3 separate regions of the Homo sapiens genome follow, and all the other regions are linked to region 1. Evidence: fine-mapped expression QTL. A gene starts in region 1. Each other region holds a variant in brackets. All regions are shown on one strand. Distances are from middle to middle. Region 1 holds the start of SLC2A12 (solute carrier family 2 member 12). Region 2 overlaps SLC2A12 (solute carrier family 2 member 12). Region 3 overlaps SLC2A12 (solute carrier family 2 member 12).

Region 1 (4,245 bases):
CATTTAACTGTATTAAATACATTATGGTGTGCAAAAGGCTGGGAAGGAGAAGTACAGGGTTCGTAACAGAATTGAGGCAGAGTTTCCCCCCTCTAGTCTGGGTGAAAAAAATTTTCTCCCCTAAACTTTTCTCTGAGTTAAGAGATTGAGGTAAGTACAAACAGAGCTTGAGATAGCCAGTGGCCCCGGTCAGGTCACCAGCAGAATAAAGAACAGAATTAGGAGCACCAGGAGGTGATGTTGTCAGTTGCATTGCTGAGCATTCTTTTTGACTCCTGGTTGGCTTACTATGCCTGTGGATCTCCTGTATGGTTTGGCTACACAAAACAGAGTGAGAACTGTTGAACTGCTTTTAACCATAGTAAAGTATTCTGGAATTAGTTTTGTCTTCTGTCTAGTCAAGCACTATAGCAAACACTCTAACACTCCCATGGGGCCAAGAAGCTGCTAGAAACACAGGTTGTGGGATCACGAAACAAAGCAATGATACAACTAACCCATTGCAAGAACATTTTCCCCCTAATGAGGTCATTGGTTCTGAGCAGAAAGAAGTTAGAAGCCAAGAGAATATAGAGAACTTATGGGAAACATATGTGTCTCACAGATAGAAACTGGGACTCCTATATAATTATAATGCACCCTGGGAACAAATAAAATGAGTTGTTTCAAACCATGGTTGCGTTACACATTCTTTAGTGGGGACACTGATGTGTGGGATTCTGAACTTCTCACCCTCTTAATCATAAGGGGCCTGGATTATGCCTGGAGGACTTCCATTTTCTAGCACTATCAGCAGACATACAACGGGTACATAATAAAGACTAGTTGAATTATTATAGGTTTGTTTCCATTTGCTACCTGTTTCCCTGAAAGATAAGAAAAATATAGAATTATTTAATGACAAGCAAAGGAAATGTACAAATAAGTGAATTTAGAACTTTGAAGTGATTCAGTTAAAATGTTGAAAAGAAGTAACAAAAATTTAGCTTCTGCTTATACAAGCACAAATTTGTTTTTCTGTCCAGAGAAATGCCTATGACTAAAAGCCATATTTCACGGCATCTTCTTAAAGTCGAGTAGGTCTGAAACCATAGGAAGCCAAGAAAATTAGAGAAGGACAAGGCTGGGAAGTTAGAATATAGGAGAGTTACAGCTTTAGACCTCCTGGATTCATAATCTCAGCTCTACCACTGATTAGCTGTGAGACTGTAGCCAAGTTACCCAACCTCCATTTCCTCTTCTATAATGTTGGTACCTGCCTCAAAGTCATCATCTGCGTTATTGCGCTTAGCACAATTTCTGGCACATAAGTGCTCCACACATGTTAGTTTTTATTCCAAATGATTTTTAAGATGATCTCAATTTCCTCTATAAGGCTTTTTTTTTTAATAAACATGATTTGTTGAATGAATAACTGAAGGTAAAATGTCATAACCCTGTAAGACTTTTTTATAAATATGTTCACAAATCAGAAAAAGATCCTCTCTCATGACCTGATTTTGTTTGAGATTACATGTCCACCACACGCACACAATGGGCCACTTAGTCTGGCCTCTCTGAGTGAGGAGTATCCTCCTCCTACCTACGCAAACATGAAACCTAACAGAGGATTCAGTGTTAATTTGTCTCTTAAAGACAATTCTGCATTAAGAAATGGATTACTTTGCTATAACCTCAGCATATAAAAAGTCTAAAGAATCTGTGCATTCTGAGTTTGTGTATTTTTGGTCTCAGGCTGTGATTTATCTGAAAGGCCTTGGAGAGAAAGATATAGGCCTTTACCTAGACCAAAATCAGGTTGAAACAATAAAGGTATTTTATGCTTTGTGTAAGCTGGTAAATACCATGACTTTTGGAATAACAGTCTTGCTGAAAAATTGACACACTTTTCCTTCTGGTATGTCTTTGCATAAATTGTTCCTCTTTCTGCAAGATTAACTGATACCATCTGTGAGTATTCTATCCCCACTCTCAGCTTGCATTTAAATCTGCATGTTTCCTTTCTCTGCCTCTTTTCAAAGGTGCTAGAATACAAGAGCTACCCTTAGCTAATGGCCAAACACTCCGTCTGAGTTCCCTTTCTTTTAACCCCTTGCTTCCAACTCTGCATCTAAAGGCAAAAACAATCCTCTGACTCACGGCCCTCCCCCTGCCTGTGATAGGCTGCTTGGAATAGCAACAGCCTGTGTCACCGAAAAGGGCAAAGCCTTCGGAAATAGAAACAAAGTTGGTCACAAATCACATTAGCTTTGCCCGAAGTTTTTCCCCACACTCTTCTTTAGCATGCTATTATGGGGAAAGTGACCACTCCTGGGAGCGGGGGTGGTCGGGGCGGTTTGGTGGCGGGGAAGCGGCTGTAACTTCTACGTGACCATGGTACCTGTTGAAAACACCGAGGGCCCCAGTCTGCTGAACCAGAAGGGGACAGCCGTGGAGACGGAGGGCAGCGGCAGCCGGCATCCTCCCTGGGCGAGAGGTAAAGTGAGCCTGCAGTGCTCGGGTGACCGCAGAGAAGCAAGCTGTACTCATCTCCCGAGTGTACTGTCTCTTGAGTCCCGTGTGTGTGTGTGTGTGTGTGTGTGTGTGTGTGTGTGTGTGTGTGTATGCGCGCGCGCGCATGTGGGCGCGCTGGATGAGTGGAGAGAAGGGGACAGGGTCTGGTGGGACGTGGGACAGCTCGGAGCTGTAATGTTGTGAAGATCGAAGTCTTGGTGGAACCTTATGTGCCAAGAAAATACAGGTTACACATCCACCACTGGTATGATGGGTCCCCTTGATTGTGTTTACATAATACAATGTATGGATGTTTTTCATATTGGAACGGTCCACTGGCAAAGATAGTCTCATTTGTAAACACACACAAGCACACGCTTGCTTACACTTTTTCATTTATTGTCACAAATGGACACTGTGTAACCAGTTGACATTATAACCACTGTTTTAAAAATCAGTATTTTAAACAGGCTTCATAAAATTATTAGTTATGTAATCAATGAGAACACAAACTTCCTTTTTAAATTCCCAGCACGTTTGTGATGAATTTGAGCGTTATTCAGAGCCTGAAACGCTTGCTTTGCTGGGTTCTGCCTTCTTTAAAACTGGCCTTGCAAACTGAGGTTTGTTTGCTATGATGACCTTCTGAAGGTGAAATTTGGAAAAGTTTTAATTCATTTAATGATCTTTGATAAATCAGAGGCTGGTCTTCACTTCCACATTTACAATTCCCACAAATACATTGTACGCTTTTTGCTGCCTCTTCCTGCTCATTTAGTTTGTGCTGCAAGGAATAGAAAGTAATTGTAATATGAAATGACAACAAACACAAAAAATCTTCTCTTTCCTACTACTTTCCTCAGCTGTGTATTCTTAATCAGATATTACATTCCCAAGCAGCATATAGAAATTTCATGCAAAATCCAATACACTAAATGATACAAAAGACATCTGCCTTTCTCTTGGGAATGGTCCTAATACTGACGTTTGCCTTGTGGGTTTGTCTGATCTTGGGGAATCGAACCTGTGACCCCTAACATCGAGGCATGAAGCGGCCCTCTTCAGGAGTGGAGAAGCCCTCCATCTTCCATGTCCTGATCTCTTCTCTTGCTTTCACACTTCTCGTCAAGAATGAGGCCGGGCGTGGTGGCTCATGCCTGTAATCTCAGCACTTTGGGAGGCCAAGGTGGGCAGATCACTTGAGGCCAGGAGTTCAAGACAAGCCTGGCCAACAGAGCGGAAACCCTATCTCTACTAAAAATACAGAAAAATAAAAAAATTAGCTGAGCATAGTGGCACATGCCTGTAATCTCAGCTACTCAGGAGGCTGAGGTACAAGAATCACTTGGAGGTTACAGTGAGCTGAGATCATGACACTGCACTCCAGCCTGGGTGACAGAGTGAAACTCTGTCTAACATAATAATAATAATAATAATAAAAGAATATCTGGGGTCATCTTTCAATATGGCCTGTCCTCTCCTATGCAGAAGTACCCTTTTCCCTAAGCGCTTGCTACTCATTGGCCCACAAGTTCCCTAAGAGCAGGCAAGGGAAACTTATATTTGGAGATAAAGGGAAAGAGTTGCAAAGTTCTTTTCTCCAAATTCCTGGGAACATGAGCTGCAGTCTAGACTGCAGAGCAAGCTGAGGTGGTGATGTTAACAAAAGGGCTCACTAAATACAGTCAGTGATAATGTCACAAAGAAGATGAAAAGAAACTGCCTAGGAAGAGCCTTTGTAGTAACCATTAA
Region 2 (4,245 bases), 33 kb after region 1:
AGAAAACAAGTAAAAGAAATTCTGGGAGATTGAGGGCACACAGATTTGGGAATAGAACCCTAGGTACCTGAAAGCTAATCCATGTTCTTTCTGCTTCTATATCACCTATGTTTGAGGCAAAACCTCTGGTTTTTCAAGACCCTCCATTATCTCACCCAGCTCTATCAGGGTGTCTGCAGGACCATAGGGCCACGATTTACTTGTAGTCTTAAGTCTTGTGCTCCAGGGCCACCATAGACTCCACATAACGGACAAAGTGAATGATGCTCCCTGGGGTTGTGCAATGAGGCAATACTTTATCAGTGTGGGTTTATTCCCCACTGCTCCACACCCAAGTCAATACACACAAAGCACTTGTTGTGGCCCCTTCCTTCCGCCTCTGCTCTATCCAGATCCTTCCTCTTTTTGAAGTTAAATGAAAGCTTTATCTCCTCTTTGAATCCACTCCATTTTTTAGAGGTCTTTATTTGTATGAACTACTAGTGTGTTTCTAGAGTAATTCAGTTCTGGGCTACCAAACGTATAAATTTAAAATCAGAAAACCTCTGTTCTAATCCCAGCTCTTCTACTTACTGGTGGTGTGACCTTTACGTGATTTTTCTTCTCTGAGCTATTTCTAATCTATGTAATGGGCATAGTAATATCTGTCCTATCTCCTAGAGTACAGGTGCACATCAGATGATCTAATGTATATGAGAGTGCTTTAGATGCTGTAAAGTATGAGAGTATGATATAATGTAAGTTACAATGTGAGAACACATCTTAGTCCTTAGCAATAGGGTATTACTTCTGTATGTTTATTTTGGTTTATTAACCAGAATGTAGTTATAGACTGTAAGCATTTTGAAGGAAGAAACATCTCATATTTTTTCTTTCTGTCCCTGTAAGTGAGCACAGCATGAGTCTGTTTAAAAATCATGCTGGTTTATTTACCTTTGTGTTTTTAAGCAGGAAGAAGGAAAAGGACTTAAAAATACGATGCAGACATAGGAAAAATGTCAAATTGGGCTTCTTTACTTGTGTAAAGATCTGGCTAGTGGGCAGGCTAGGAACTAAGTAAGCTAGAAATACTAGGCTGCCAAAAAAACTCCTGTTCCTGCCAGACACCATCACGAGGCTTTTTGCAGAACAATCCATCACTTGGGCATGATTTTTAAAAAATATCTTTCTGATTTTGGCTGTAAGAAAAGATGCAGGAGATTTAGTAGTGTTAAGAAACAATTAGCGGGAGATATTTAGGCATTTCTTTGTTAAGGCATACATAGTTATTCGAGAATTTTGGACACAATATCTAAAAGTTGTTCTGGATGCTTTTTGGATCCTCTGCTTTTTGCTACAACATGGAGAAGAGGGGCTTCGGAGAACTGCTTAGACCAGAAGCAATGCCAACGAGTTGGAGAATCTCAGGGTTGAAGGAAGTTTGGATCTAGGAAAAGGAAATACTTCTTACATCTCATGGACTGTCCAATTTACAACTGCAGGTGCAAGGACTGGCCTGGGTAATCACACGTGAGGCTTGGAGTCATGCTGTCAGAGGCAGGAATCCAAATCACATCTAAAGAGAACAGTCATTTCACATTCTTATCTTGAGGCTATGGATTCTCCTCGTGTTTTTAAAAGAGACCCAAATAATTCTCCATTTTTTTTCTTGCTAAGAGTCAATCCTTTACATCCATATTCACATTTTAGTTTCTTTTTCTTTTCTAAAGAAAATATCCTGTAGTAATTTCATTTCAATCCCCAATTGTATTCTAGAGCATTGGTATAAACTATATAAACTAGTTGGAGTTTAAAGAAGATTTTTATTAGGAACAAGCTTTTCATACCAGATCTTGAATGCATTACCAAACTTATTAAGCTGATGTGATTAGTGCTCAGGTATTTAGAGAGTTTATTGCTTGTAATACAAATAAATCCTTTGTGTAAATAGAGGTATGAAGGAAAAGTACTTGCTGTTCTAAAGTAACATTGAAAGCAAGATTAAACCATCCTTATTAGACCTTCTTAAATATGGATTGGCTTAGAACAA[C/T]ATTCCTTAATTGTGTTAGATCACAGCATGATTTTCTTCTGCCAGGAAAGTGTTTCTATTCTTAGGTTAAAGTGGATGCCCCACGTCATTTTACTTTCTGGTCCCCTGTTCCCCTAACTGTAAAATAATTGGGTTGCCCCAGAATTTAGAATCCAGGAGGGGTACTCATGTAATCTTACATACTTTTTTTTTTTTTTTTTTGAGATGGAATCTCACTCTGTTGCCCAGGCTGGAGTGCAGTGGCTCGATCTCGGCTCACTGCAATCTCCGCCTCCTGAGTCCAAGCGATTCTCCTGCCTCAGCCTCCTGAGTAGCTGGGATTACAGTTGTGCACTACCACCAGGCCTGGTTAATTTTTGTAGTTTTAGTAGAGACGGGGTTTTACCATATTGGCCAGGCTGGTCTTGAACACCTGACCTCAAGTGATCCACCTGCCTTGGCCTCCCAAAGTGCTGGAATTATAGGCATGAGCCATTGCGCCCAACATCTTATGTACTTCTAGAATGCATTTAAAATATTATTCTAAGAAGGGGTCCATAGGCTTCACCAGCCTACCGAAGAGGTTCATGGCCCCAGAGAGGCTAAGAGCCCCTCCCTTCCATTTTTCTGTAGCTAATATTAAAACCCGTATGTCAAACAAAATCAGGATATATACTTATTAAACACTCTGTTGTCCATAACTTATCTTTCACTTCAAATATGTTCAAAATCTTACCTCGACTCCCCACTGTTTCTGGGGTGCTCTTGATCATCACTTCAGCTCCCTTTAATAACAGAATTTTTCTAACATGGTTCAAGCTTTCACAACGTAGAATCACAGATTCTTGACATTGTGAAGACACAGAACAACGTGAAGATTTTTATATTCATGCTTCACAAGTAAAGTCAAGATGAGCCAAAACCCAAGGCATAATGTTATTATTTCATGAGTTCATCTGAGGTGACACTTGTGTAGAAACCCAGCCCTCCTTAAAATAGCCACTGAAACTCCGGAAAATATATGTGACTGTTTTTTTTATAATAATTATTAGGGCTTTTTATCCAAAAATTAATATGCCCATAAATTAATTAATTAACCTCTTCTTTCATCTCATGATGAATAAGTTTTCACTTTGAGCAGATGGAAGGCATGTTTCCCAAGGTCACATACGAAGTTAGGTGATAAAGCTGCGACTGTCATCCTTCAGCTACCTTTGTATTCACATATTCAAGTGACAGATGACACCAAATAACCTCCCCTGATCTCTTCTACCAACTCTGAGGACTCAAATGGGCAGAAATTCCAGCCAGAAAACATCTTGGAGTGAGGAAGAGGAGAAGATAGAGAAGTGGTAGGGATTCATTGATTCACTCACACATCCAGCACATGTGTCTTGCTCACCCACAACATGGCAGGCACAGTACCAGGTGCTGGAGATCCACATCTTATTTTCACGAACCAGTGATAGGGACAGACGAAAAGAAAAAAAAAATGAACACACCTATGATACAGTTTCAGGAGACAGAAGTGTTAAAATTTAGGTGGAGGTAAGAGTGATAAAGAAAAATAAAAGAGGGTAAGTGAAAGGGCATGCTTGGAGGAGGGTTATTTCCGATATGATAGTGACAGAAGACATTTCTGAGGTGGTAACATTTGGGCCAACGTTTGTATGAAGAAGGCAGTGTGACAATCTTGGAGGAGGGGGTCTTGAAGCAGGGCTAATGGCAGGTCAGATGGCTTTGAGGACATGAGCTTGAAGGGTGAGGAGAGCTGCAAGAAAGCCATTGTGTTTGAATGTGGACCAGGCTTTGGTATTGGACTGCCTGGCCTTGAATCCAGCACCACCATGCAGGACTTAGGGCAAGTCCATTGATCTCTCTAGCTTTCAGTTTTATCTAGAAAACAGGGCAATTGTATCCACTTGATGGCCTGTCGAGTTAAATGAAGGAATCTGTATAAAGTGCCCCTAGTTCAGTGCATGGTTTGTGGCATGGACTTAGTACACTTAGTCATTAGTGTTATTAAATGTCTGGCTGTGGTCTAGACATGAGGTGAACAGTTCTGATAATGCCAGCACTGACTTCAACAGGCATTTTGCTTAAGTCACTCTGGGACACATAGGATGTGCTTAAAGCCCTTTATTGATTTACGATGCTGTGGTCTTCTTTCCCTCCCTCTACACATAAATCCAGCTGAGTCAGGACCACAGAGACCGGATTGTGGCTTTGAGAAACAT
Region 3 (4,245 bases), 60 kb after region 1:
TCTTACCTATGGTCTCTATTCCTCTGCTTCCTCTCTTAAAGTTGGTGTGCCCTGGGGCTTAGTCCCCTGACCACTTCTCTATCACCCTCACCAGCCAGTTGATCTCAGTCAATGTTAGTTTCTTTTTTGTTTGTTTGTTTGAGATGGAGTCTCGCTCTGTCGCCCAGGTTGGAGTGCCATCTCGGCTCAATGCAAGCTCTGCCTCCCAGGTTCACGCCATTCTCCTGCCTCAGCCTCCCGAGTAGCTGGGACTACAGGTGCCCGCCACCACGCCTGGCTAATTTTTTTGTATTTTTAGTAGAGACGGGGTTTCACCATGTTAGCCAGGATGGTCTCGATCTCCTGACCTCGTGATCCACCCACCTCGGCCTCCTAAAGTGCTGGGATTACAGGCGTGAGCCACCGCGTCCAGCCAGTTTTACAGTTTTTATCTCATTGATATGCCAGGGTCTGAAATTTATGTCTCTAGCTATCTCTCTAGAATTCAAGGCTTGTTTATTCAACTGCTTACTCTACATGTCTTTCCAAATGTCTAACAGATACCTAATACCTCACATGCCCTAAATTGAACCTGTGATGTTCTCAAACCTATTCTACTCACTGCCTTACCCACCTCAGTTGATGTCAATGTTATCCGACTACTTTGGCCACAAACTTTGGAGTCTTTCCTCTTTCTCACATACTCCACATTCAGTCTATCAGGAAGTTGTGTTGGCTCTTACTTCAAAATATATCCAGAGCCTGAACACCTTCACGGCTGCCCTGGTCTGAGTCACCATGATCTCCATCCTGAATTACTGCAATACCCACTTACTGGTCCCCATTTCTGCCTTTGTCCCCTCCCATCAGTTCTCTACACAGTGGCCAGAATGACCCCTTAAAATGCAATCAAGGTATTCTTTTGCTCCAATCCTCCAGTGGCTCTCCAGCAAGAGCAGAAGCCTTCCAATGCCCTTCCAGCCCTGCACAGCCTGCTAATCTCCCCTTCTTCTCTCACAGCCACACAGGCCAGAGGCTGCATCCCAGACACATCAAGCATGCTCAAGGCTCCAGATCGTGGCACTTGTTTTCTCTGCCTCGAATTCTCTTATCCTAGATATCCACCTGTCTTGCTGCTTCACCTCCAACAGACTTTTCCTGTCCCTCTATTTCAAATCCCAATTGTGTAGCCAACTCTGCACCCACTTTCCAATCCTTCAGTTTTAACCAAAGCAGAAACACTACATTTTACTTGGTCTACTGTCTATCTCTTCCTGCTATATTTAAATTCCATGAAGCCAGGGAATTTTGTTCACTGTTGTTTCCCAACACTTGGAACAATTCCTTGGCATATAATCGAAGCTCGGCATTGAATAGATGAAAAAACATGAATGAAATGGATACAAGAATAAGGTAATGAAGTAGTCAGGATGACACTGCAAGTTTTAGCTGAGAAACTGGACAGATGGTGAGATGCAGAAGCCTGAGAGAGGACTAGGTTTCAGGGCTCAGGACAGAATAGAGCTCGGATTTGGAGATATTGTGAGATGTCCATTAGACATCAAATAGACACATTAGTAGTAGGCAGTTGGATACGTAAGTCTGAAATTTGGAGACTCTAGGGGTTAGAGTCAAATGTGGGTGGCCATCAGCTTATAAGTGGTATTTAAGTCCTGAAGCCAGATAAGCTTATCTGGTCAGAGAACAGAGAGAGAAGGGACTAGGCCCAGTTTTGTGCCAAACTTAGAGACCGAGCAAAGAAGAGAGTGTTAAAAGGGACTGAAAAGAAGCCAACAGTGAGGCTGGAGGAAAGCCAGAAGTGTTGTAGGAAGGTGGGACTGGAGAGGCCAAGCACAAAGACAGATGTAAGCACAGGCTCAGCGGAATGAGAGGACAGAAGCTGACTGATGTGGTTGGAGGACAAAATGGAAGTGAAGTGAAGAAGCAACAGTCCACTCCTT[A/G]CATCAATTTTGCTGTGAAGGGGAACAGAAAAGCAGGATGGTCATGCCCTAGACTCATTTCCAATCACTGCTTCATTCACAAGCATTCCACTCACCCTCTAACCACTCATCTCTCCAGCCCACTTCCTCAAGTACTGGCACTTCAACAAGTCTTCAGCCCCACGACGACCTGGAGGCCCATGCTCTCCCTTCCTTCCTTACCCTGCTTCCTACTTTCCATGGCCCACCAAGGCCACTTCTTCGCATTTCCCCTTCTCCCTTTACTCTCTTCTCTCTCCCTCCATCACTCAGGCAAACCTTAACTCTGACCAAGTCAACTCTTAGTTTATTTTAACCCTGCATTCAAGGAGCTAAACCTGGCTGAATCAAACACACAACTATGCTGATAAGCCTTGTTTTCACCTTATGAACATACATCTCAAGTAGATCTTGAGGAATACCCTGCAATATACCACATTTCCCTGGTGAGTTGACGTTCCTACTTTCGAAGATGATTACTTCACACCAATACTTTTCCCAAGCCTCCAGGACCCCCTCCCACTTCTTCACTCTAATTATTTTGCTTTTTAGTTCACTGAGAAAATAAATTGAGACCACCTTGTCCTCCTGCCACAAGATCTTCTAACCTACCTACATCTATGCCCACACACACTGCCTTGTTGCAAAGGCCAATGCTTCCATTTGTACACTGACTGCATCAATTTCCCCCTCCTATGGGATTATCATCACGCACACACGCACAAAGCTGCAGTATTTCCCATCCTGAAAAAATACCTTCCTCAGATTTCCCTCCAGATACCAACCGTTTCCCTGCCCCAACTTCTCAGGTCTCTGGGATTCTCTGCAGGAGTTCCCTCCCTAACTTCATTCCATTTTCTGATCATTGTCACTGCTTTAGAGAGATGCCACCTGTATAATACAGTCTGTCCTCTCCCACCCAACTAAACCCTTTTTTCTCCTTCCCCGTTTATTTCTCATTTGCACTTTTACTACTTCAAGTTATAAGCTCGTCTCCCCTCTAAAATCTAAGTAAGCTCCTTGAAAACAGAAGTCTTTATCTACTCAACCCATACTACCTACATATTGTGGCCACTCAAATCATTGGTTAAATTACAGAAAAAGGTATTTGAAAAGGGAGGTTCAAAGGCAGCTCTTCATTTTTAGTAAAGGTAAAATACAATAGCATCTTTTTATGCTGATGGGAAGAATCCTGTAGAAAAATTTGTTAATGCAGGAGTAAGGGATAACGTAGAAGATAGAAGAGATATAAATATAGGCACATTGCTGGAGTTTGAGAAATGGAAAAAAATAAGGTCTGGGATGAAACCTCCACTGGTTCTCTGTATGTAATACTATCCTTGGAATCCTTCCCCACAGAGCTGACTGCTGGGATTGTATTCTGAGAAGACACCGTTACCCCTTGCATGAGATTGACCAAAGTCTGTGGCATACTGAATTTCATGATGCAGCAGGATTCCTAATAAAAATGTGTATTTATTTTTGCATAGCTAAAACATTAAAGCCCCAGGGTGGTTTAAAAAATAATAGCCTACACATTTTTTTCATGTAAACTAAGAATGACATTTTCATTAGTGCCTCTTTCTCTTTCAGGAACTATGTGAAAAACAACATTTGTTTTATGAGTCATCACCAAGAAGAATTAGTGCCAAAACAGCCTCAAAAAAGAAAACCCCAGGAGCAGCTCTTGGAGTGTAACAAGCTGTGTGGTAGGGGCCAATCCAGGCAGCTTTCTCCAGAGACCTAATGGCCTCAACACCTTCTGAACGTGGATAGTGCCAGAACACTTAGGAGGGTGTCTTTGGACCAATGCATAGTTGCGACTCCTGTGCTCTCTTTTCAGTGTCATGGAACTGGTTTTGAAGAGACACTCTGAAATGATAAAGACAGCCTTTAATCCCCCTCCTCCCCAGAAGGAACCTCAAAAGGTAGATGAGGTACAAGGTCCTAAGTGATCTCTTTTTCTGAGCAGGATATCAGGTTAAAAAAAAAAAGTTACTGGCTGGTTTAATACTTTCTACCTTCTTCACAGAGCAGCCTTTGAATAGACTATGTCCTAGTGAAGACATCAACCTCCGCCTTAAGCTATGTATGTATGGAGGCCAGTCGCAGCTTTATTATGCAGACACACAAGTGGTCTGGACATGAGGGTACAGTTTCTGCCTACCAAGACACTACTTGCACTGGATCTTACGCAAAAAAGAACCAGAACACACAGTGTGGACAACTGCCCATATATTCTATCTAGATTAGGAGAGGGTCCTGGCTAGGATTTTAGTGGTAATTC

Evidence for each region. PIP is the estimated chance that this variant, and not a neighbour inherited with it, causes the effect.
Region 2: its variant is fine-mapped to the expression of SLC2A12 in esophagus muscle (GTEx, PIP above 0.99). The same link has a PIP of 0.9 or more in aorta.
Region 3: its variant is fine-mapped to the expression of SLC2A12 in putamen (GTEx, PIP 0.95).

The regions. Positions count from the first base shown.
Region 1 is chr6:134,050,609-134,054,853 of GRCh38, reverse strand. It overlaps SLC2A12 (solute carrier family 2 member 12), which reads left to right and starts at 2,230. Exons shown (of 5, transcript NM_145176.3): 1 at 2,230-2,476. The coding sequence starts at 2,374.
Region 2 is chr6:134,018,010-134,022,254 of GRCh38, reverse strand. The region is part of intron 2 of SLC2A12 (solute carrier family 2 member 12); the gene reads left to right. Among named protein-coding and RNA genes, the nearest start is that of SLC2A12, 32 kb to the left of the region's middle. The variant C/T (reference allele first, on the strand shown) is at 2,030.
Region 3 is chr6:133,990,615-133,994,859 of GRCh38, reverse strand. It overlaps SLC2A12 (solute carrier family 2 member 12), which reads left to right. Exons shown (of 5, transcript NM_145176.3): 5 at 3,552-4,245. The coding sequence ends at 3,705. Among named protein-coding and RNA genes, the nearest start is that of TBPL1, 40 kb to the right of the region's middle. The variant A/G (reference allele first, on the strand shown) is at 1,941.